Regions from separate parts of the Homo sapiens genome. Here all the other regions are reported to be linked to region 3. The links are microRNA targets in miRTarBase. Many come from high-throughput screens and were not tested one by one. Region 3 holds a microRNA gene; each other region holds the end of a gene's coding sequence.
Evidence for each region. The annotated mature microRNA hsa-miR-877-3p reads UCCUCUUCUCCCUCCUCCCAG and lies in region 3 at 4,869-4,889, shown strand. An mRNA with a match to its seed (bases 2 to 7 or 8) in the 3' UTR can be bound and repressed. Matches are read on the target gene's strand: a 7mer-m8 pairs with bases 2 to 8, a 7mer-A1 pairs with bases 2 to 7 and ends in A, and an 8mer does both.

Region 1 (7,179 bases), not on the chromosome of region 3:
GAGGACCATGTAAACATTTAGGAGCTGTAAATGGTTTTTTTTTTTTTTTTTTTTTTTTTTTTGAGACGGACTCTTGCTCTGTCGCCCAGGCTGGAGTGCAGTGGTGTGATCTCGGCTCACTGCAACCTCTGCCTCCCGGGTTCAAGCGATTCTCCTGCCTCAGCCTCCTGAGTAGCTGGGATTACTGGTGCATGCCACCACGCCTAGCTAATTTTTTGTATTTTTAGTGGAGAACAGGGTTTCACCAAGTTAGCCAGGATGGTATTGATCTCCTGATCGGCCCACCTCGGCCTCCCAAAGTGCTGGGATTACAGGTGTGAGCCATTGTGCCCTTCTGTAAATTTTTTTTTTTTTTTCTGAGATGGAGTCTTGCTCTGTCACCCAGGCTGGAGTACAGTGGTTTGATCTCGGCTCACTGCAACCTCCACCCCCTAGGTTCAAGTGATTCTCCTGCCTCAGCCTCCCAAGTAGCTGGGATTACAGGCGCGCTGTAATTTTTGTACTTTTAGTAGAGACGGGGTTTCACCATCTTGGCCAGGCTGGTCTTGAACTCCTGACCTCATGATCCACCTGCCTTGGCCCCCCAAAGTGCTGGGATTACAGGCATGAGCCACCGCGTCTGGCTAACCCGGCTGTAAATGTTTTAACAGTGAAAATGATGGGAATACTTTTGTGGAATGAAATCAGTGGGTCTGGTAAATTCAAGCCAGAGCCCACATGCTCCCCAGGGCTGTGCCGCAGTAGAGGCCGGTGGCGGGTGGCGGGTGGGGGCCCGGGTGCTGCCCCAGTCCACCTCCTGGGTTGCGGCTGCTAGGCGGTGGCTCCGGGTGACTGTGTGCTGTCTGTGTTCCAGTGTTTGTGGGCTACCTGTGCATCGTGCTGCTCATGCTGCTGCTGCTCATCTTCTGGATCGCGCCGGCCCATGGGCCCACCAACATCATGGTCTACATCAGCATCTGCTCCTTGCTGGGCAGTTTCACCGTGCCTTCCACCAAGGGCATCGGGCTGGCGGCCCAAGACATCTTGCATAACAACCCGTCCAGTCAGAGAGCCCTCTGCCTGTGCCTGGTACTCCTGGCCGTGCTCGGCTGCAGCATCATCGTCCAGTTCAGGTACATCAACAAGGCGCTGGAGTGCTTCGACTCCTCGGTGTTCGGGGCCATCTACTACGTCGTGTTTACCACGCTGGTCCTGCTGGCCTCAGCCATCCTCTTCCGGGAGTGGAGCAACGTGGGCCTGGTGGACTTCTTGGGGATGGCCTGTGGATTCACGACCGTCTCCGTGGGGATTGTCCTTATACAGGTGTTCAAAGAGTTCAATTTCAACCTTGGGGAGATGAACAAATCTAATATGAAAACAGACTAGATTGCAATAGGAGCTTGGATGGTTCGAGGAATAGGCATTGGAGGTGGTTTCTGGCCGTGATTGGATGTGAAGTAGAAGAGGTCCTCGATCATGGTGTTAGAATTGACTGGATAGTAACAGGTGGTCTGGTGGATAGCGGGGAGCATGGCTCAGCACCAGAGCAGAGGCCCAGCCAGCCCTCTGCAGCCCAAACGTCCCCAACGGTTGCCTGGCACCATCTCTCTCTGATGAGACGAATCTCATTTTCATTTCCATTAACCTGGAAGCTTTCATGAATATTCTCTTCTTTTAAAACATTTTAACATTATTTAAACAGAAAAAGATGGGCTCTTTCTGGTTAGTTGTTACATGATAGCAGAGATATTTTTACTTAGATTACTTTGGGAATGAGAGATTGTTGTCTTGAACTCTGGCACTGTACAGTGAATGTGTCTGTAGTTGTGTTAGTTTGCATTAAGCATGTATAACATTCAAGTATGTCATCCAAATAAGAGGCATATACATTGAATTGTTTTTAATCCTCTGACAAGTTGACTCTTCGACCCCCACCCCCACCCAAGACATTTTAATAGTAAATAGAGAGAGAGAGAAGAGTTAATGAACATGAGGTAGTGTTCCACTGGCAGGATGACTTTTCAATAGCTCAAATCAATTTCAGTGCCTTTATCACTTGAATTATTAACTTAATTTGACTCTTAATGTGTATATGTTCTTAGATTAGAATAATGCAACTTCGAGTATGCTTTAATATTTCAATATTCAAGTTACAAATGTATAAGGCAGTTAGAAATAATACAGTCACATGTCACTTAATGATAGGGAAACATTCTGAGAAATGCATTGTAAGGTGACTTTATTGTGTGAACATCATGGAGTGCACTTATACAAACCTAGATGGGACACCTATGACCCACCCAGGCCAGATGGTACAGCCTGTTGCTCCTGGGCCACACACCTGTACAGCATGTGACCGCACTGAATACCGCAGGCAATTGTAACACAGTGGTGAGTATTTGTGTTTACAAACATAGGAAAGGTACAGTAAAACTATGGTATTACAATGTTATGGGACCACCGTCATGTAAGTGGTATGTCTTTGACAGAAACATGGTTACGTGGTTCATGACTGTATATTCACTGGAAGATAGTCAAGACTAAAGACACATTAGAGCAAATTGACCCCTTTAACATGTGATTATTGTCCAATTAAAGACAGTTGATTTAAGTAGCATGAGGTATTATTTTATTTGTATTCGATCTGTGTTACCTGGGATCCAGTATCAAATATATCCACATTCTTTATCAGCAAGCATTCATGGCCATTCAGAAGAAATAAATTAGGTAACTTGATAATAAGGCTAAGTGGGAGAGTACCTGTTCAATAGCTCATATATCGAGTACCCTGTCATACAGGAACAAGTTAAAGGACACAATTGAGGTTAGGCTAGCTTCTACAAATTGCAATATGCAGTTTTTGAAAGATTTTCTAACAAAAAGCCAATAAATGTAGCCATCTCCTTGTTGTTTGCAATGGCAGAGCATCCTAGAGTTCCTCAGCTAACCTCTCATTATGTGTCTTAAATGCAAAAGAGCCATTAATTATGCCAGTATTTGAATCAAAGAGGTCATTCTCTGTCTATAGTGTTCCCATCCATGTGTTCCAAATGGGAGCATAGCATGAAGTGATGCACATATTTCACCACGGTATCATGTACTTCATGGCCAGTGTTTTATCTCAGCAGGGAACTACGCCAAGTTGAAAGATGGGGTTGGGTAAAGTAGATTAGGTGAAGTAGAACATAAAATTGAATAGTACCCAATTAAAGTTCCTCAGTAAGAAAAAAAATGTGTTTTTGTAGGCAAAAAGAACATTTCTAAAGTCTCAAGGAATAGCTTCCTAAAGTGTTGAGTAAAGAGGCTAAATAAAATGAGACTAGTTTAATATAGAGAGAAAAATACCTTTATGGAGTAAACGTGTACATGATGATCATGGGTTGTCAGTGATTTGTGAACTGAGAGCAGCAACAACATTATTTTTTAAAAATCTTAAATCCTCTCAATGGATGGTTAACAAATGCTCAAAGTCCATTACTCTTTTTATTGGCTCTTGCAGGTTTTGTGTTTTATCATCAGTGCTTTTAGAAATGCAGGCCTTAACTTACTGAACTGAACTTTCTGAAAACGTAATGTAGCAGTATCAATATACTTTTGGGCATAAAAATAGTTTCCTAGGTAAGGGGTGTGAGATATTCAAAGAATACATGTGGCTAACAAGTGTAATGAGAAAGTTCATGTGTCACATGAAAATGATCATGTTTGTGTTGCTACAGCTTTTGTGGGAAATTTAGTTTAAAGGCAGCTCTTGGTGTACCTTAGTATATTTTAATCCACAATTATACCATTGATACTGAGAGGTGATACCCGATGATCTTCTCTATAATATTCTTAGAGTAAAACAAAATCTCAAAAGTATTAATAGCTCTTCTACCCTTGAAGGTGACTGGTCCTGGGACAGTTAGAATCTTTCAGGTTTACCTCTGTTCAGCAGATACTTCAGTAGGATACATAGCTTTTCTTCCAGTGAAACAAAGTTCATATCATCCATTGTTTTTCAAGCACGTGACACCAGCCTCAAAGTAAATGACATGACCAGTGGTTGAACAGTCTAATTTTCAAATTTAATATAGAGCATATAACTTCTGATTTGATAGTATTTATTTTAAAAAATTATGTTTTCATCATTCATTTGAAAATGAAAAAGCCCCAAAGTGAGAACTTTGGGGGAGGGCCTAGAACATGGATAGATCTCTTAGTGGTCTTTCCAAAAGTACATGTACTTGAAATATTTTCATTATCATACTATTCTTTGAAAAAAAAGATGCTTACTGTATACTTGTTTTCAAGCATCCTCTAAAATCAAAGGTTTTGATCACAATATGCAGATTTCTCTTGATAGATACTTAAATAGGCTATTTCTCTCCTCTTCTTGGGCAATGCCTTGTTTTCTCCTCTGAATATTTGCATTTGAAAGGATTGCTTCCTGTTCTGCTCATTGATCAAAGGTAGGGCCAATTAAGGATTCTAACCCTAACCCAGCACCACAAAGCCCCCCTGGAGCATCTTCCCGGCTGGCAGGACCATGCCATCTCTGTGGAGAAGGTGCTGGGGAGGGAAGTCCTTCCAGTGCCACATGGAGTGAGGCCCTGCCCATGCTGGGGACTTTGGGGAGGAATTTGGTATTCTGGTGGCCTTGCTCAGCTCTCATTGAGATCTTTTCCTATCAGAATGTTAGTGAATATACTTCGCAGCTCTTTGTTCAGCAATAAGGAATATTCTTTCAATTCCTGCTCTTCAAGCCAATTTACTACACCCAGTTGTCTTTCCAGAAGTTCATCCCAGCGGTAATATGTTGGTGTTTGTTCTTCTTTGGATTTCACATCTGTTTTCTGGTAGAAGTGAGCACTGTTCACTTGTGCAGTCGTCTTATTTTCCTTCTTCCTAGATGACTCAGCTCTTTGTAAATGTTGTGCTCAACTTCTAGGGGCCAGTTCTAGACTTTGGAGATGCAGTGTCTCCCAGGTGTGCACGGACACCTGGTCCGTGGAAACAGGTGTGATGGGCACAGGCTGCTGCCCTTCTGTCTGGTCGGGGGATTCCTCTTCTTCAAGCTGCTCAGCTAACCCAGAAGAGGGGAGAGAGTACTCCGGTGGTTCCCAGAGCCCCTCCCGTTGTGCCGCTTCGACCTGACACCTGCTCGATGCTGACTTAGGCTTCCTGCCACCAAGCAGGAAACTAGAAAGAGAACATTTCAGTGTAAGGTCTGTTCCCGACAGCATGGATTAGCTTCCGTGTTCTGAAGTTGTTCTTTTCATGGTGTCTGACACCGAGGGCGTTGTTCGTCCATCAGGCGGGATTGGATGGAGTCTTGGTGTTTTGCCTTCTCAGGGACCAAAAATGTATCATTGACTCCTTAACAGTGACCTTCCTCCCAAGGACATATCCGTGTTCATTTTTCATAGGTTTTACTCATATTCATAGGTAGATTCTGTTAATGTGAGTTGGAAAGAAAAGACCAATTTGTACACCAGTCACACCACAAGACAGTTTATCATATAAAATACCTCAATTTTTTGTATTCCTCATTTCCACCTCACAATTGTACTGGTGATGAATTTTAAGGGTCTGTCCTTTAGCTTATAGGTGATGTTTCACATCTGGCCAGATTCTTATACCTCCATTGTATACTTGAAAAGGTTCAGAATTACAGGAACAGCAGTGAGAATTTGGCCCACTACCACGACTCATTTGTTTCATTCACATTCCTCACGTGCAACAACATAATTATATTTTAAGAAAATGTAACTTTGTTACATCAAAATATGTTGTCTAGTAAAAAGTTGATATTCAGTAGAACAAGGATCATGTAAATAAACATCTATTTCACATGTACCCAAAAGCATTTAAAAAGCAGAATCCAGGGCCCAGAGCATGAGCCAGGGAGGAGGATGTTTTTCTTCTTTTCTCTATTTTTCCCTAAATTGTGCAAACATAGGTGAGTCTCTTAACCTTTCTGTGCCTCAGTTTTTCTACCTCTAAAGGGGTGGGATGGTTCTTCAAATTGTTTCTAAAACACCGGCACTTTCAGCAGTGTTCTGGTGGCCTGAGATGAGAGCACCGTGTTCAGAAGTGCCTGGGAGTGGCACAGTGGAAACTCCGCTTGCACGGACCATGGAGTCTGCTCAGGACCATGCTGTAGGACACACAGCCTCATGCGCTGAGAAAGCAAAGGAAGTGCTGGGTGTAAAGTTTGCATGATTCCATGAAGCTTTAGTTTTCCTTTTTTTGTTTTAAAAGAAAGGGTTTTATATGTTCTATTGTAAAATATGGAAATTAAACAGGGACTTCAGAAAGCCGCACAGAAAGATCACCTTCCGATGGTGTGATGTGCTCCTGACATTCGGCCGAGGTCTGTATTCTGAAAAAGATTTAATGGCCTGTGAAACACGTGGATTCTGTTGCACTGGATTTGTAATAAATGACGCTGAACTTCCTGCTTCCAAGCAGCTCAACCCTGATGCTGAACTGACACCAGGCGAATGTCAGGGCTCCCAAACCACTAGTGCCAAAGGGTCATGTTGAAAAGTTCAGAATATTTATTTGTCAGAATATAATAATTGCCCCCCACCTTAGTATTTTTGCACTTTACAGAAATTTAGATACTGTTTTTCAGTGGCTTGAGCGTTTTGCCTTTTCAAAGGATAACTATTATTTTCTTGAAAATGGAATATAATCATGAGAGGAAGAAGATGTAAAAAATGTCAAATGTTGATTGGTTGTGTAAAAGTTTTGTCATAGACATGTATTGGGGAGCTTCCAATTAGCATACATAGACACATGTGTCAGTGGCCAAGACCTGCTTATATTTTGCTTTATAGATGTAGTCATAGCATGTTGTTATTGCCTCATGTAAATAAAAAGGCTATTAAGTTTTCCAGTAATATTTATTAATCTGTATGTGTTTTAAAATAAAATAACTTATTTCTAGCTGAACATTTGTTGATTTTTTTTTTTCCCTTTACTTGAAATGCTTATGTAGTCTCAGGTTCCAGATCATCCCAGTTCCTCCCATTTTTCCTATTCTCTTTTTAGAAATGAGTAGCCTAGGCTGGGTGCAGTGGCTCATGCCTGTAATCGCAGCACTTTAGGGGGCTGAGGCGGGTGGGACACTTGAGGCCAGGAGTTTGAGACCAGCCTGGTCAACATGGTAAAACCCCATCTCTACTAAAAAATAACAAAAATTAGACAGGCATGGTG
Region 2 (7,199 bases), not on the chromosome of region 3:
CAATGGTGGATTGGATAAAACAAACATGATACACACACACCATGGAATATTACACAGCCATAAAAAATGAAATTATGTCCTTTGTCGCAACATGGATGCAGCCAGTGGCCATTATCCTAAGCAGATAACAGGAACAGAAACCAAATACCACATTTCTCGGTCGTAAGTGGGAGCTAATATGGACATAAACATTGGAACAATAGACACCACAGACTACTAGAGAGGGGAGGGAGGGGATGGGGATGGCAGCATAAGTCGAAAAACTACCTATTGGGTACTAGCTCATTACCTGGGTCTCACATACCCATGTAACAGTCCTACACGTGTATCCCCATATCTAAAATAAAAGCTGAGGCCAGTCAGGGTGGCTCACGCCTGTAATCCCAGCAGTTTGGGAGGCCGAGGCAGGCAGATCATGAGGTCGGGAGTTTGAGACCAGCCTCGCCAACGTGGTGAAACCCCATCTCTACTAAAAATACAAAAATTAGCCAGACATGGTGGCAGATGCCTGTAATCTCAGCTGCTTGGGAGGCTGAGGCAGGAGAACCACCTGAACCTGGGAGGCGGAGGTTGCAGTGAGCCAAGATCACACCGCTGCACTCCAGCTTGGGCGACAGAGTGAGACTCTGTCTCGAAAAAAATAAAATAAAATAAAATAAAAGCTGAAATTTTAAAAAAAGGATAAATGATAAAAATGATCTCAATACACAATGCATTAAGTACTGATTACAGGGTCTTTTAACACATGGGGCTTGAATTGCTTACTTTTATGAGAGTAGCAAGGAAGATGTGCTGAATTTTGAAAGATTTGGATAGGCAAACAGAAAAGGATATTTCAAGTGGAGGGTACACTGGAGGCAGACATCCAGAGATGAGAAAGAACAATGTCTTTTCAGGACAGTAAATAACCAGCCCTGTCCAGCAGTGTTTGTGCAGCAAGGCAATCAGCAAAAAACGTTTTCATTTGTCAAGCGGGATCACGTGGCTGATGCAGTCCTGGCTCTGCCATGTCTTAGCTGGGTAAACACCAGCGTGCAAGCTGTAAAATTGGGATATCTCTTACCTTACAGTTGTTCCTGTAAAAATCAGACACTGACAAGCCTGTCACATCGTCTTGCTTAAAGGATGGCAGCTCCTAGAGCAAACATTAAGAAAACACAGGTTGAACTTGGACTTTAAAGAAACTAAAGTAACAGGGTGGAAATTTACATTTATCCTATGGGCTGGAAGAGTCATTGCTTCAATGTATAAGGCAGTGACAAGATGAAAATAATGCTTTCGATTAATCTGAATCTAGGTAGATGATACCTAAGTGGTCTCTCAGCTTTTCTGAATGGCTAACATTTTTCAAAGTATAAGTTTTTATTTTTTAAAAAACTTGACTATTTTCTGCTTCCTCCTGTAATAATTTAGGCTCAACTGAGAAGAGGTCCCCGTTGCTCATGGCTATATCCTCAGCAACTAGCATAGTATATGACACACAGCAGAGATAAACAATAAACTATTGTCTAACAGTTGAAACAGAAAAGAAAAAGTAAAAAGGGCCAGAACTATGGTGACAGCAGTTTGTGTGGGAAGATAGGGGTGCATGCCAAAGTTTTCCAAAGCAATTTGGTGATTTGGATATAGACTAGCAATGAAAACTCAGGTGATGGGAGATTGGTGGAACCAATTGCAGGAGATTAGAAAATATGCAGATTTTAGGAAAAACGAATTGTATTTTACATCCCTGGATTACAAGGAGGGAGTAGGCCAATGAAATGCAGAACTAAAACTTGACAAAAGTTTTAGAGCAATTTAGCTAGCGGGGATTACTGAGGTTAGCAAAGTAAAAGGTGTTTCAAGAAAGATGAAGGACCTTATCTTCCCACTCTATGAGGAGCAGAAACCAAAAAATGACCTTCTATGTCTAACAGTGCCATTCCAAAATTAAGTAATAGTTTTTGAGGGTCTAGAGTGGAGTCACAAATTAGCTACTGTAAAGTTAGTTTGCCTGTAGATCATTTTGTTTGGACAGCTTAATTCTGGCCTATTTAATAGTCAACATTTAAAAATCAGAAGCTCCATAAAAATTCGGATTATTTAATTCTTTCAAATACCAGGGAGATGGTCAACCTTGTCTTCATTTTAACAGGCAGAATTGGATGAAGCTGAGTAAATGGTGCTGCCTTTAAATGACTCCAGTTCACTACCCAATTTGTCTCATTTGTGATTTTCACCTGGCCCCTGTAGGTATTAGAGTTTGCAATTCCTGGTCTAATGGTATTATGTCAGCTTTAATGAAAATGGTTAAGAATAAAACCAGTAACAGCAATAATAGCACACTGAGCACTTAGTTGCAGGCACTAAGTATGCCACAGAGATCACCCACCATTTGAGGGAGGTGCTATAATTGTACCATTGTACAGGTAAAAAACTAAGAGGTTCAAAGACCTGCCTAAATGTCAACAGCCAGAAAGGGGTAATGGTAAGATTAAAAATCCAGTCAGACTTAATTTGCAGTTGCCAAATAGTATTCAAATTAAATGGTACTAAGTTACCCTATATGAAATCTGAGTCTTTTCCTAAAAGCAGATACCTCCATTTCAGCCACAGGAACTTGTGCTCTTTTCCGCAGTAAATACACGGACATGCACACCTCTGTGTGACTTTGGGTTGTTATCTCATTGCCTCTTACCTGTGCCTAAGATGATCTGAGATGAACTCAATAGCTTAGTTTCTTGCCATAAATCATGAACTTTGGGTGGCGGGAGGGGAAGGTGGGAGTGGTAGAGACTTGTCTTCATTTTTATGTCTAGTAAACATAAAATGCATAGATGCAATTAACCAACTTCAAGAAACTGAAGTTCTAATTGGAGATATGCAACAGACTCAGAGGTTTTTAATGAGGTTTAGTAATATGTGGGTGAGTATAAATGGAAGTTGTAGAGCATATTCAAGGTTGAGGGGACACAAGACATCACAATGAGAGCCAGGAACACCATTTGGAGATGTTTCAATGAGTGTTTCAAAGTGTGTAATGTGAAAATGTCCATGTTAAGGGAACAGGTTTCCAAGATGTCACATTGGGCACTCTGAGCTCTCTCCTAAAGTATCAGTGGGTGTTAAAGTTTGCTTGGCTGAATAAATATTCCGTGGAATATACACAGAACAGAATGAAAGAACTTGAAAGATCAGACAGAAAAGACATTTGACTATATTGGAAGAAGTGAGAATTGGATTGGAAAACAAAGGCATCAGGATTCTAAAAAAATCTATGGGGAAGACTTTAATCTGCTAATCTATGAATTTTTTGGGGGGGGGGATTACACGTCAGTTAAGTCAAAATCAAAATGGTGTAAACAAAGCAAGTCAAGAATAAAAACCTCACTCATAACTATCTGGGATAGCCAAAACCTTTGTTTCTGATAATACATTTGAGAAATGTGAAGTAGTGGTATAAGACACAGGAAGTAGGTTGCTTGAGCTAACAGGATACGTACATCTGGGAAACAGGTACTATGATAGAAGTGATGGATAATTACTCTGTCACACCTTAACTCCAAAACAATCAATTCATTTTGCTGTGCTACTTTAACACGATTCTGGTTTTTTTCAACTATAAATGGCATTACAGATGGAATGAAGCAATCAATGAACCAGTTGATGAGCCTGAATTTTCTTCCACATCTTTGCTGTATGCTATGAAAAAGAACTCTGCTAAATGCCCACTGTGTTACATGGTATTCTAGGGCCTTTGACTTCATTATTTCATATAATAATCACTACAACTGTGTAAGGTAGACAAAAGTATTTTAAAGGTGAATCAGAAGGTCAGAAAAGTGAAATAATTTGCCTAAGTTCACACAGCTGCTAGGAGACAGAGCTGATTCTCAAATCCTTCTCTCTGGCTTTTATTCATCCTCCAGTTGTGCTTTGGAATGAAGATGATCTGAGTTAAATACTGCTACTTATCAACTTTGTGGCCTGAGCCTAATTAGTCTCTTTGGACTCCAGTCTCCTCTTCTGTGATGTAGGAAGACAATACCAATTCTCATGGGGTTGTTTTGAAAGAATTAAATTCGTTATTTGTTCATTTATCTATTCGAATGATAGATCACGGAATGAGGGAAGTAAAGAAGTGCTGGGGTGGGGATTGGTAACTGATTGTAACAAAGTCAATGGATCAGAAGGTTTGCTGAGGTGAAGGATTTCTAGAATAGTGGTACTAAAGCAGGTGAACTGGTTGGGAAGTGGCCAAAGTATGATGCTTCAAGGAGGGATTTCAGAGGTGGTATGATTTGAAAGCCAACCTAACGGGGATGACAATGGGAGTAGGTAGCTAGGGATGTAGAATTAGAACTTTGGAAGCAAGGAAATTGAGAACCTGAAAAGGAATGAGCATGCAAAGTATCTAGAATTCAGTTGATCCTTAAAAAATACTAACTCTGAAATAGTGTAAAAATATAGAAATAGCAAACATAGGCAACATGTTTCTTGTTTACACATTAAAAGAGTGAAGGTGAAAAATCTGCCTGAGCGGCAGACAGTACATGTGAATACATCATAGTTGATGCTGCAGAAATGCATTTTCAAAGCAGAACAGAATAGTTCCTCAATCCAGCTTCTAGTCTCTGCTTCTGATATAACTCACTTATACTCAAAATACTTCTGCTAGAGGTAGTTAGGTATTAATTGCTTGTATAAGAGTATAGAACATAGTGAGGAGCACACACACAAGACAAAACACAAGTTAAGTAGAATAGGAAATGTTAACAAAAATTTCCAGGCAATATTTGCTGTCAAAAAACATCTGTATTACAGCTGTTCCTTCTGCCTACAAGGTTCTTCCCAAGCAATCCACATGTCTCAAGCCCTCACTCTGTTCAGATATCTGGGCAAGCATCACCTCATCAAAGAACTGCTCTGTCTATACACCCTGTCCCCCAATCACTCAGTCTCGCCTTTCTCTGCTTTACTTTTCTTCATAGCACTTACCACTACTGGATATATCATATATTTATTTATTTACTGTCTTTGTTTACCATTTCCCTCCCCTGAACTATAAGTCTCAACGAGTAGAGACTCTGTTCACTGTTTTATCTCTAGTACCTAAAACAAACCTGAGCAAACAGTAGAAGATTAATACATATTAATAACATTTTAAAAATAATCTAATAACTCTAAGGTCTTAAGCACTTAATAAAATGAATGGGTTCCCATTTTTACATGTAAAAGTCATGAACTAAGGTTAAAGTGTAGAAAATAAACTAAAATTTCTAGTCTACTGTTTTTTCCTTTTTACCAACCCTGAAGATGAGGGTTCAGGTAAAAAAAAAAAAAAAAACTATTTCCCTTAGGGCTCATGGCCTACATGTTTGTTAAATCCAATTTGCTCAGCTTGTAAGTTCTGTGGAATGCACTGTCCATGATGGTCCCTTCCAATGACACCAAATTTTAACCACCACAAAGGGAGAAAACACTAAAAGGAATTTATCCAAGCTGTCTCATTCGAATGAATGCTTTTTGTGAGTTGGTGGGGAGAAGGAGCGGATATTTCTTTACATGAATTTTATTGTTATTTATACTCAAGTTAAACAACAAAAATAGGAAACATTTTGAATCAGCATATGCCCAAAAACTAAACATTAAAATGGTGGTCCCACTATTCCTGAAACCAAACATTGGCTAAAATGAACTATATGCACCTTTAAGGTGAGCAAACACAAGAAGCCTATATTTAGCAAGGAAGTTAAAATGTTTGTCAGCAAGTCTAATATCTTAGAGGAAATATTTATTTCAAAAGTAATAACTAATGTGGTCATATTAATTAATCAGTTAACAGTTACAATGATGGAAACCCTTAAAATTCATATAAAAAACTGAAATTACATTTAGGCTGCTTGCATATTTCACAACTATATGTTTTCCAATGATCTATTAACCTAAACTAAAAATTAAATACACATTAATTCATCAACAGTGATATAACTTCAAGGCTGAGAAAAATGCACTAATCACAAAGAATTTCAATTAAATGATATCAAGGAGTCCAGAGAGAAGAAATATTTCCTGTGGGAGAAGTTCTAATTATAAATAACTGCGTATTGGTTTAAAGAGTAACATACACCTAGCTTTACCAACACTTGTGAAAAAAATTACACATTACATACTTTGTTCAAAGCCTAATATGAAAATTGTAACAAATCCTCTACTGAAAAAAAAAAAAGTGACTACCTGAAAAAGATTCATAACATCTCATTAACAAAGCAAAACTGTTAAACTGAAAAGGTTCACCTGTTTTGGTCTTCAGTTACAAACAAAAAAGCACTGATAATTCACTATAACAGCTTCTTAAACAACTAAAAAAATATTTTGTCAATTGAAAAAACATCACTGAATCAATGAGCTTTTGATCATTTTATTCACAAAATATAAGCGAGACTTACATCCCTTTCTGGTGAAAGTTTTCAAATAATTTTATGGGTAGGGCCTTGAGATGTATCAATTATAAAACATGTTAAAATGAAAACATTTTTTAAATTTACAAATACAAACCAATACTTTATACAAGAATTCTCTATAAAGTTCGTCAAAGTAAAAAATAATTTGTTTCAACTGAATATAAGGCATGTCCAGTTTATGTCATTTTGTAGAATTATTTTTGTTTTGCTGGAGACTTTTCTCTTCGCCGGTCCTGATTTTTCTTTGATTCTCTGGATTGTTCAGAGTATCTGCTAGATTTTTCCCATCGTCTCTCGGCACCATTTTGATATCTATCTTCATCACTTCTTGAGCCTGAGTGCTTTCTATTCATTTCCTTTGACTTTGATCTATCTTTTCTTCTGAAATTTTCACTGTCTTTAATTCGGTGTGTATGCTTCTCATTTTCAGAAAAAGAATTTCTTCTCTCTCCTCTCTTCTTTTTGGGATCACCATGCTTATTTTCCAAATCTATATGCATTTCTTGGTCTCTGTCATTCGCAACTCTACTGTAGTTATTTCGTTCAGAAGGAACATCTTTGTCTGATGTGTACTTTGTTATAGGATCTCTCCAATTTGAACCACTTGAATTTTGATCTCTGTGTTTTTCTGACCTTCTTTCTCTCTCAGTCCTTGTTTCCTGGTGCCCGTGTTCTTGTCTTCTTTCTTTTTGTTTCCTATCATTTGTTTGCTGGTTTCTGATCAATTTATCTACCTCTTTACTTCTGGTCTTCCCA
Region 3 (7,199 bases):
CTCACTGCAACCTCCGCCTCCCGGGTTCAAGTGATTCTCCTGCCTCAGCTTCCTGAGTAGCTGAGATTACAGGCACGTGCCACCACGCCCAGCTAATTTTTGTGTTTTTAGTAGAGACAGGGTTTCACCATGTTGACCAGGATGGTCTCGATCTCTTGACCTTGTGATCCACCTGCCTTGGCCTCCCAAAGTGCTGGGATTACAGGTGTGAGCCACCACGCCCGGCCAAGAACTATCATTTTTTATTTAAGTTTCTGGTGGGTTTATCGGGATGCAACCTGTCGTAAATGGAGGAGCATGTGTATGGTTAACACAGTAGACTCTCTAGAAATGCTTATTACACAGCAAAGTAGCACAATAATTTGTATGTATGTGTGTAATGTGTATGTGTGTCTCCTCCAGGCCGTATCTGAGGAACAGCAGCCTGCACTCAAGGGCAAAAAGGGAAAGGAAGAGAAGTCAAAAGGGAAGGCTAAGGTGAGAGAGTAACTAGCAGGAGGAGGTATTGGGGCCCAGGAATTAAAACATTTCATCAGGGCTGGGCGCGGTGGCTCACGCCTGTAATCCCAGCACTTTGGGAGGCCGAGGTGGGCGGATCACGAGGTCAGGAGATCGAGACCATCCTGGTAACACGGTAAAACCCCGTCTCTACTAAAAATACAAAAAAAATTAGCCGGGCGTGGTGGCGGGCGCCTGTAGTCCCAGCTACTCGGGAGGCTGAGGCAGGAGAATGGCGTGAACCCGGGAGGTGGAGCTTGCAGTGAGCCGAGATTGCGCCACTGCACTCCAGCCTGGGTGACAGAGCGAGACTCCGTCTCAAAAAAAAAAAAAGAAAAAAAAAAAAAACATTTCATCAGACCTGTCTTTTCCCTATTAGCCTCAAAATAAATTCGCTGCTCTGGACAATGAAGAGGAGGATAAAGAAGAAGAAATTATAAAGGAAAAGGAGCCTCCCAAACAAGGGAAGGAGAAGGCCAAGAAGGCAGAGCAGGTGTGTATTTGGTGTTGGGGCAAGGTGGAATGAGGGACTAGGGCTTCCAGGGTCCTTATGGGAGAGTTAGAATCTGGGGATATAGTTATTATCCCAGCAAACCTTTATTCTTTTCTTTTTTTGGGGGAGTAGTTGGGGTGGTGGTTCGTTTGTTTTTGTTTTTGTTTTTGTTTACACAGGATCTTACTCTGTCACTCAGGCTGGAGTGCAGTGGTGTGAACACGGCTCACTGAAGCCTCAACCTCCTGGGCTCAACAGATTCTCCTGCCTCAGCCTACTGAGTAGCTGGGACTACAAGTGTGCACCACTACCCCTGGCTAATTTTTTTATTTTTAGTATAGAGATGAGGTCTCACTATGTTGCTCAGGCTGGTCTTGAATTTCTGGGCTCAAGCAGTCCTCCTGCCTCAGCCTCCCAAAATGCTGGGTTTACAGGTGTGAGCCAGCATGCCAGCCAGCAAACTTTTTCTATAAAGGGCCATATAGTAAATGTTTTTGGCTTTGCAGGCCACATACAATCTCTATCACATATTCTTTTTTTTTTTTAACAACTCTTTGAAAATACAAAAATTATTTTTATAAAGTTCAGGAGCTATATAAAAATAAATGTCAGGTCAGCCTTGGCCCATGGGCTGTAGTTTGCAACACCTAATCCAGTGAAGAAAGGGCCTGGAATTTATCTCAGATGATCTGGGTCCTGGCTCTGCCTTCACTGGCTGTGTGACCTTGAATACATCTTCCCATCCCCTTGGGTCTCACTTGTCTCCTTTGTGTGATAGAAGGAGGAGTCCGGAGATCTCTAGGGTCCCTATGCGTCTGGCACTTCCTAATTCTGTGATTCTGCTGGATTCCTCTGACTGTGCACTAGAGCTTCCTGATCTTTTTTTTTTTTTTTTTTTTTTTGAGATGGAGTCTCACTCCGTTGCCCAGGCTGGAGTGCGGTGGCGCAATCTCAGCTCACTGCAACCTCTGCCTCCCGGGTTCAAGCAATTCTTCTGCCTCAGTCTCCCGAGTAGCTGGGACTACAGGCACGTGCCACCATGACCGGCTGATTTTTTGTGTTTTTAGTAGAGACAGGATTTCACCATGTTAGCCAGGATGGTCTTGATCTCCTGACCTTGTGATCTGTCCATCTTGGCCTCCCAAAGTGCTGGGATTACAGACATGAGCCACCGTGCCCGGACGGCTACCTGATCTTTTCTTTGCATGTTAACAAGGAAACCACAGAAACTCATTTTATACAAATGAAACTCTTGAAATCCATTTACTCCACCTTCAGTTACATTGTATTGGGAGTTACATTTATAGGGACATAACGCGTTGTCACATTTCATAAATACACATTCATACCATTTGTCTTGTACCATTCCTGGTAGCAGAAATTAATAAAGGACCTCAGGGAGACCAGGGGCTGGGTATGAGAATGAGAGAGGATCCCAAGATATTTTAGGACTCTGAGTAGTGAAGGAAAGAGCTGGGGCAGGGACAGGGGGCAGATGATGTGAAATCTGAGTTCTAGAAGGAGTCCCTAGTTTTTTTTTGTTGTTTTTTTTTTTGAGACGGAGTCTTGCTTTGTCACCCAGGCTGGAGTGCAGTGGCACGATCTCGGCTCACTGCAAGCTCCTCCTCCCAGGTTCACACCATTCTCCTGCCTCAGCCTCCCGAGTAGCTGGGACTACAGGCGCCCGCCACCACGTCCGGCTAATTTTTTGTATTTTTAGTAGAGATGGGGTTTCACCATGTTAGCCAGGATGGTCTTGATCTCCTGACCTTGGGATCTGCCCGCTTTGGCTTCCCAAAGTGCTGGGATTACAGGCGTGAGCCACCGCGCCCAGCCAGGAGTCCCTAGTTTTGACCATCCCCGGGTTCTCACAGGGTTCAGAGGAAGAAGGAGAAGGGGAAGAAGAGGAGGAGGAAGGAGGAGAGTCTAAGGCAGATGATCCCTATGCTCATCTTAGCAAAAAGGAGAAGAAAAAGCTGAAAAAACAGGTAAGACCTTGGTTCTTAGCGGTCAAAAGTAGGGGATTTTTAAATACTTCAACTAGGGGACATGCGATTGGGGACACGAAGGAAAGGTTTGGGGGCTACTCCAAGTAAAACAATCGGAGTAAGAAAATAATTGTGTTCTGTGAACCTTATCTCAATGTCTGATGACATGGGCTGTTTCACTTTGGGGTTTTTTGTTTATTTTTTGAGACAGGGTCTCACACTGTTACTCAGGCTGGAGTGCAATGACGTGATCTCTGTTCACTGCAGCCTCAACCTACCAGGCTCAAGTGATCCTCCCACCTCAGCCTCCCGAATAGCTGAGACTATGGGTGGCACCACCATGCCTGGCTAATTTTTGTATTTTTTGTAGAGACAGTATTTTAGCATGTTGGCCAGGCTGGTCTCAAACTCCTGAGCTCAAGAGATCCACCTACCTCAGCCTCCCAGAGTGCTGGGATTACAGGCGTGAGCCAGCATGCCCAGCCAGCATGGGCTGTTTCATGGTGATGGGAAACTGGTAGACTGTGGCTTCAAATGTAGTTTTTCCTACCTTCTCAGATGGAGTATGAGCGCCAAGTGGCTTCATTAAAAGCAGCCAATGCAGCTGAAAATGACTTCTCCGTGTCCCAGGCGGAGATGTCCTCCCGCCAAGCCATGTTAGAAAATGCATCTGACATCAAGGTAAGGTCTCAAGGGGCCCCTTCCAGTCCACTTACCTAGGGAAGAGCCAGTTCTCTCATCTTCCCTGAGTGGCTGTGGTGTGTGAATGGGTTAGTTCAGTGGGAAGAAAGATTGGAGGCATTTTCCACACCTTAGGTTCTGCCAACTTGAGCAAGAAGATAGAAAAACCAGTAGAAGTGGGGTCCACCCTTGGCAGAAAATAGTGTGGGACAGACTAGACTAGCTGAGGATGCATGGGGCTCCCATTACAGGCAGCGAACAGGGCGGGGACCGGCTGTGGGGAGAGGAAGGGGATTATGCTGGAGGTAGCGGTTTGTCAGAGGCTTCCCTGCAGGGAGAAAGTGGCCGCTCCTGTCCCAAAGGGAGAATTTTCATGTGATCATCCCTTCCCTCTGCCACCTCTTTCCTGATGGCTGCAGCTGGAGAAGTTCAGCATCTCCGCTCATGGCAAGGAGCTGTTCGTCAATGCAGACCTGTACATTGTAGCCGGCCGCCGCTACGGGCTGGTAGGACCCAATGGGTGAGAAGAGGAGGGAGCTGGAGGCAAAAAAGGGCCTGGAGGGAAAAGAAGAGATTTCTCAGTGGTGGCCAGGTCCTAATAGCTTTTATTCCCCAGCAAGGGCAAGACCACACTCCTCAAGCACATTGCCAACCGAGCCCTGAGCATCCCTCCCAACATTGATGTGTTGCTGTGTGAGCAGGGTGAGACCACTGGGGAGAAAAGGGGCTTGGTGGGGTGGGCAGTTGGGTAGAAAAGCCAGCCAGCCAAGAATAGAAGAAATTGTGGCTATGGAGTTGGAAGGGATGTGGAGGGAGACTGGAGACCGGGAAAGGGATGCTAAGGAAAGGAGGGGAGGGTCAATGAGGAACTTGAGAGTGTTTTATTTGGAACAAGTACAAAGAGCTGGGCAGGGTCAGGCAAAACAGAAATGTAATTGAAGGGAAAGAAAGATGAGACTCTTGGCTCTTGAGGCTGCCTGACTGTTCTCCCTCTGCCTCCCAGAGGTGGTAGCAGATGAGACACCAGCAGTCCAGGCTGTTCTTCGAGCTGACACCAAGCGATTGAAGCTGCTGGAAGAGGAGCGGCGGCTTCAGGGACAGCTGGAACAAGGGGATGACACAGCTGCTGAGAGGCTAGAGAAGGTAGAGGAGATGGCGCAGGGGACACGGGCAAAGACTTGGGGGTTCCTGGGACCCTCAGACGTGTGTCCTCTTCTCCCTCCTCCCAGGTGTATGAGGAATTGCGGGCCACTGGGGCGGCAGCTGCAGAGGCCAAAGCACGGCGGATCCTGGCTGGCCTGGGCTTTGACCCTGAAATGCAGAATCGACCCACACAGAAGTTCTCAGGGGGCTGGCGCATGCGTGTCTCCCTGGCCAGGTGGGCCATTCACCTCACTGCCCTCCCTTCCAGCCTCAGACCACCGGGGCCCTTTTCCTCTTTCCCTTCTCATTCTTCCAAGGCCAATAGGGAGGCTCAAGGCTTACCTCTCCCTCCTTACTATCTGTGTTGTGAGAACTTAGGGTCTTTCTCTATTTATCTCCCTACTTGGTGGTGAGTTCTCATCAACATACCCTGCAGCTGGGTGCAATGGGTCACGCCTGTAATCCCAGCACTTTGGAAGGCAGAGGCAGGAGGATTATCTTCAACCCAGGAGTTTGAGACCAGCCTGGGCAATATAGTGAGACTCTATCTTCACAAAAGGGGGAAGAAAACATATCCTAGCCTGGGCAACATAGGGAGACCCTGTCTCTACAAAAAATTTAAAGATCAGCTGGATATGGTGGCGCACGCTGTGGTCACAGCTACTCTGGAGGCTGAAGTAGAAGTATCACTTAGACCTGGGAGATTTAGACTACAGTGAGCCCTTATTGTGCCACTGCACGACAGCCTGGGCAACAGGGCGAGACCCTGTCTCAAAAAAATTAAACCGTATCCTGCCCGAGAACTTCTCTGAGGAGAGCTTGGGAAGGAGTGTTCATGGTCTCAGGCTCTATCTCCGAGTTTTCTCTGGGGTTGTCTGAGCAAGGATCTTTCTCTCCCTGACCCTGCCCTCTGCTACCCACCCTCTAGGGCACTGTTCATGGAGCCCACACTGCTGATGCTGGATGAGCCCACCAACCACCTGGACCTCAACGCTGTCATCTGGCTTAATAAGTGCGTTACGGCCTTTGCATCATTGGTTCCCATTCTGCACTTTCTTCCCCTTCCCTCCCTGCCCTGTTTTCCTTTAGCCCTTCTCCACTGTGCCTGTGAGTGGAGCTCTATTCAGACCCCCCTTTCCCTCCCAGCCCCCGTTGTCTGCCTGCTTCCTCTGAATTCTCTCTCACTTGACCACTGTGACACTTACACCCTGTTCTCTGAAACCCAGCTACCTCCAGGGCTGGCGGAAGACCTTGCTGATCGTCTCCCATGACCAGGGCTTCTTGGATGATGTCTGCACTGATATCATCCACCTCGATGCCCAGCGGCTCCACTACTATAGGGGCAATTACAGTAAGTAGGATTGTGTGTGGATGCAGGGAAGAGATAGAACCTCGAAAAGAGGCCTGAGTGGGAGGGCCTATTTAGATAAACTGAATCCTGTCAGAATTCCAGACAGTGATGCCTACCCCATCACCACCAGTCCCTGGTTGTCCCTTTGCTGGGAAGAGGAGCAACCACTGATGCCTGGTCCCCTCTTCTGCCCCAGTGACCTTCAAAAAGATGTACCAGCAGAAGCAGAAAGAACTGCTGAAACAGTATGAGAAGCAAGAGAAAAAGCTGAAGGAGCTGAAGGCAGGCGGGAAGTCCACCAAGCAGGCGGTGAGCACCTGAGGGACTTCTGGGCTGGGGGCCACTGTTCTCTCCTGGCAGTGGAGGAAGAAGGAGACTCTGGAACGCTGGCCTACATTTCAAGGACTGCCGCGCAGGGCTCAGGTTTCTCTTTTTTCCTCTTCCTCTCCAGGAAAAACAAACGAAGGAAGCCCTGACTCGGAAGCAGCAGAAATGCCGACGGAAAAACCAAGATGAGGAATCCCAGGAGGCCCCTGAGCTCCTGAAGCGCCCTAAGGAGTACACTGTGCGCTTCACTTTTCCAGACCCCCCACCACTCAGCCCTCCAGTGCTGGGTCTGCATGGTGAGTGCCGCGGGCCTCTGCTGCTCCACAGGAAGCACCGGAAGCATGTATGTGCACCCTAAATTCTCCACCAAGGCTGAGATTGCTCCTGTTCTCCAAGGCCAGCACATGAGAGGGACTTTGCAGGGACTGAAAAGAATATAAATTGCTTCTTTTCGTGGCTTTCAGGTGTGACATTCGGCTACCAGGGACAGAAACCACTCTTTAAGAACTTGGATTTTGGCATCGACATGGATTCAAGGAGTGAGTTGGCGGGGTTGCCTCAGGGATGTGTAGCAGGAGCCACAGGGAGAGTCTCTGGGGACCTCTTTGACCACCTGTCTTCCATCTTGCAGTTTGCATTGTGGGCCCTAATGGTGTGGGGAAGAGTACGCTACTCCTGCTGCTGACTGGCAAGCTGACACCGGTGAGTCCTGGAGCCA

Region 1: the mRNA of NIPA1 is a reported target of hsa-miR-877-3p. Seed matches in the 3' UTR shown: 7mer-m8 at 1,440-1,446 and 7mer-m8 at 5,050-5,056.
Region 2: miRTarBase lists CWC22 as a target of hsa-miR-877-3p. The part of its 3' UTR that is shown has no 7-base or 8-base seed match.

The regions. Positions count from the first base shown.
Region 1 is chr15:22,822,875-22,830,053 of GRCh38, forward strand. It overlaps NIPA1 (NIPA magnesium transporter 1), which reads left to right. Exons shown (of 5, transcript NM_144599.5): 5 at 854-6,915. The coding sequence ends at 1,365. Among named protein-coding and RNA genes, the nearest start is that of NIPA2, 12 kb to the right of the region's middle. RefSeq lists an enhancer at 4,015-4,767.
Region 2 is chr2:179,938,492-179,945,690 of GRCh38, forward strand. CWC22 (CWC22 spliceosome associated protein) reads right to left here. Exons shown (of 20, transcript NM_020943.3): 20 at 6,385-7,199. The coding sequence ends at 6,638. Among named protein-coding and RNA genes, the nearest start is that of CWC22, 65 kb to the right of the region's middle.
Region 3 is chr6:30,579,529-30,586,727 of GRCh38, forward strand. MIR877 (microRNA 877) reads left to right here and starts at 4,804; the gene lies at 4,804-4,889. ABCF1 (ATP binding cassette subfamily F member 1) reads left to right here. Exons shown (of 25, transcript NM_001025091.2): 7 at 403-477; 8 at 878-991; 9 at 2,866-2,979; 10 at 3,538-3,660; 11 at 4,080-4,180; 12 at 4,277-4,362; 13 at 4,664-4,803; 14 at 4,890-5,038; 15 at 5,732-5,815; 16 at 6,030-6,154; 17 at 6,351-6,463; 18 at 6,606-6,777; 19 at 6,946-7,020; 20 at 7,113-7,183.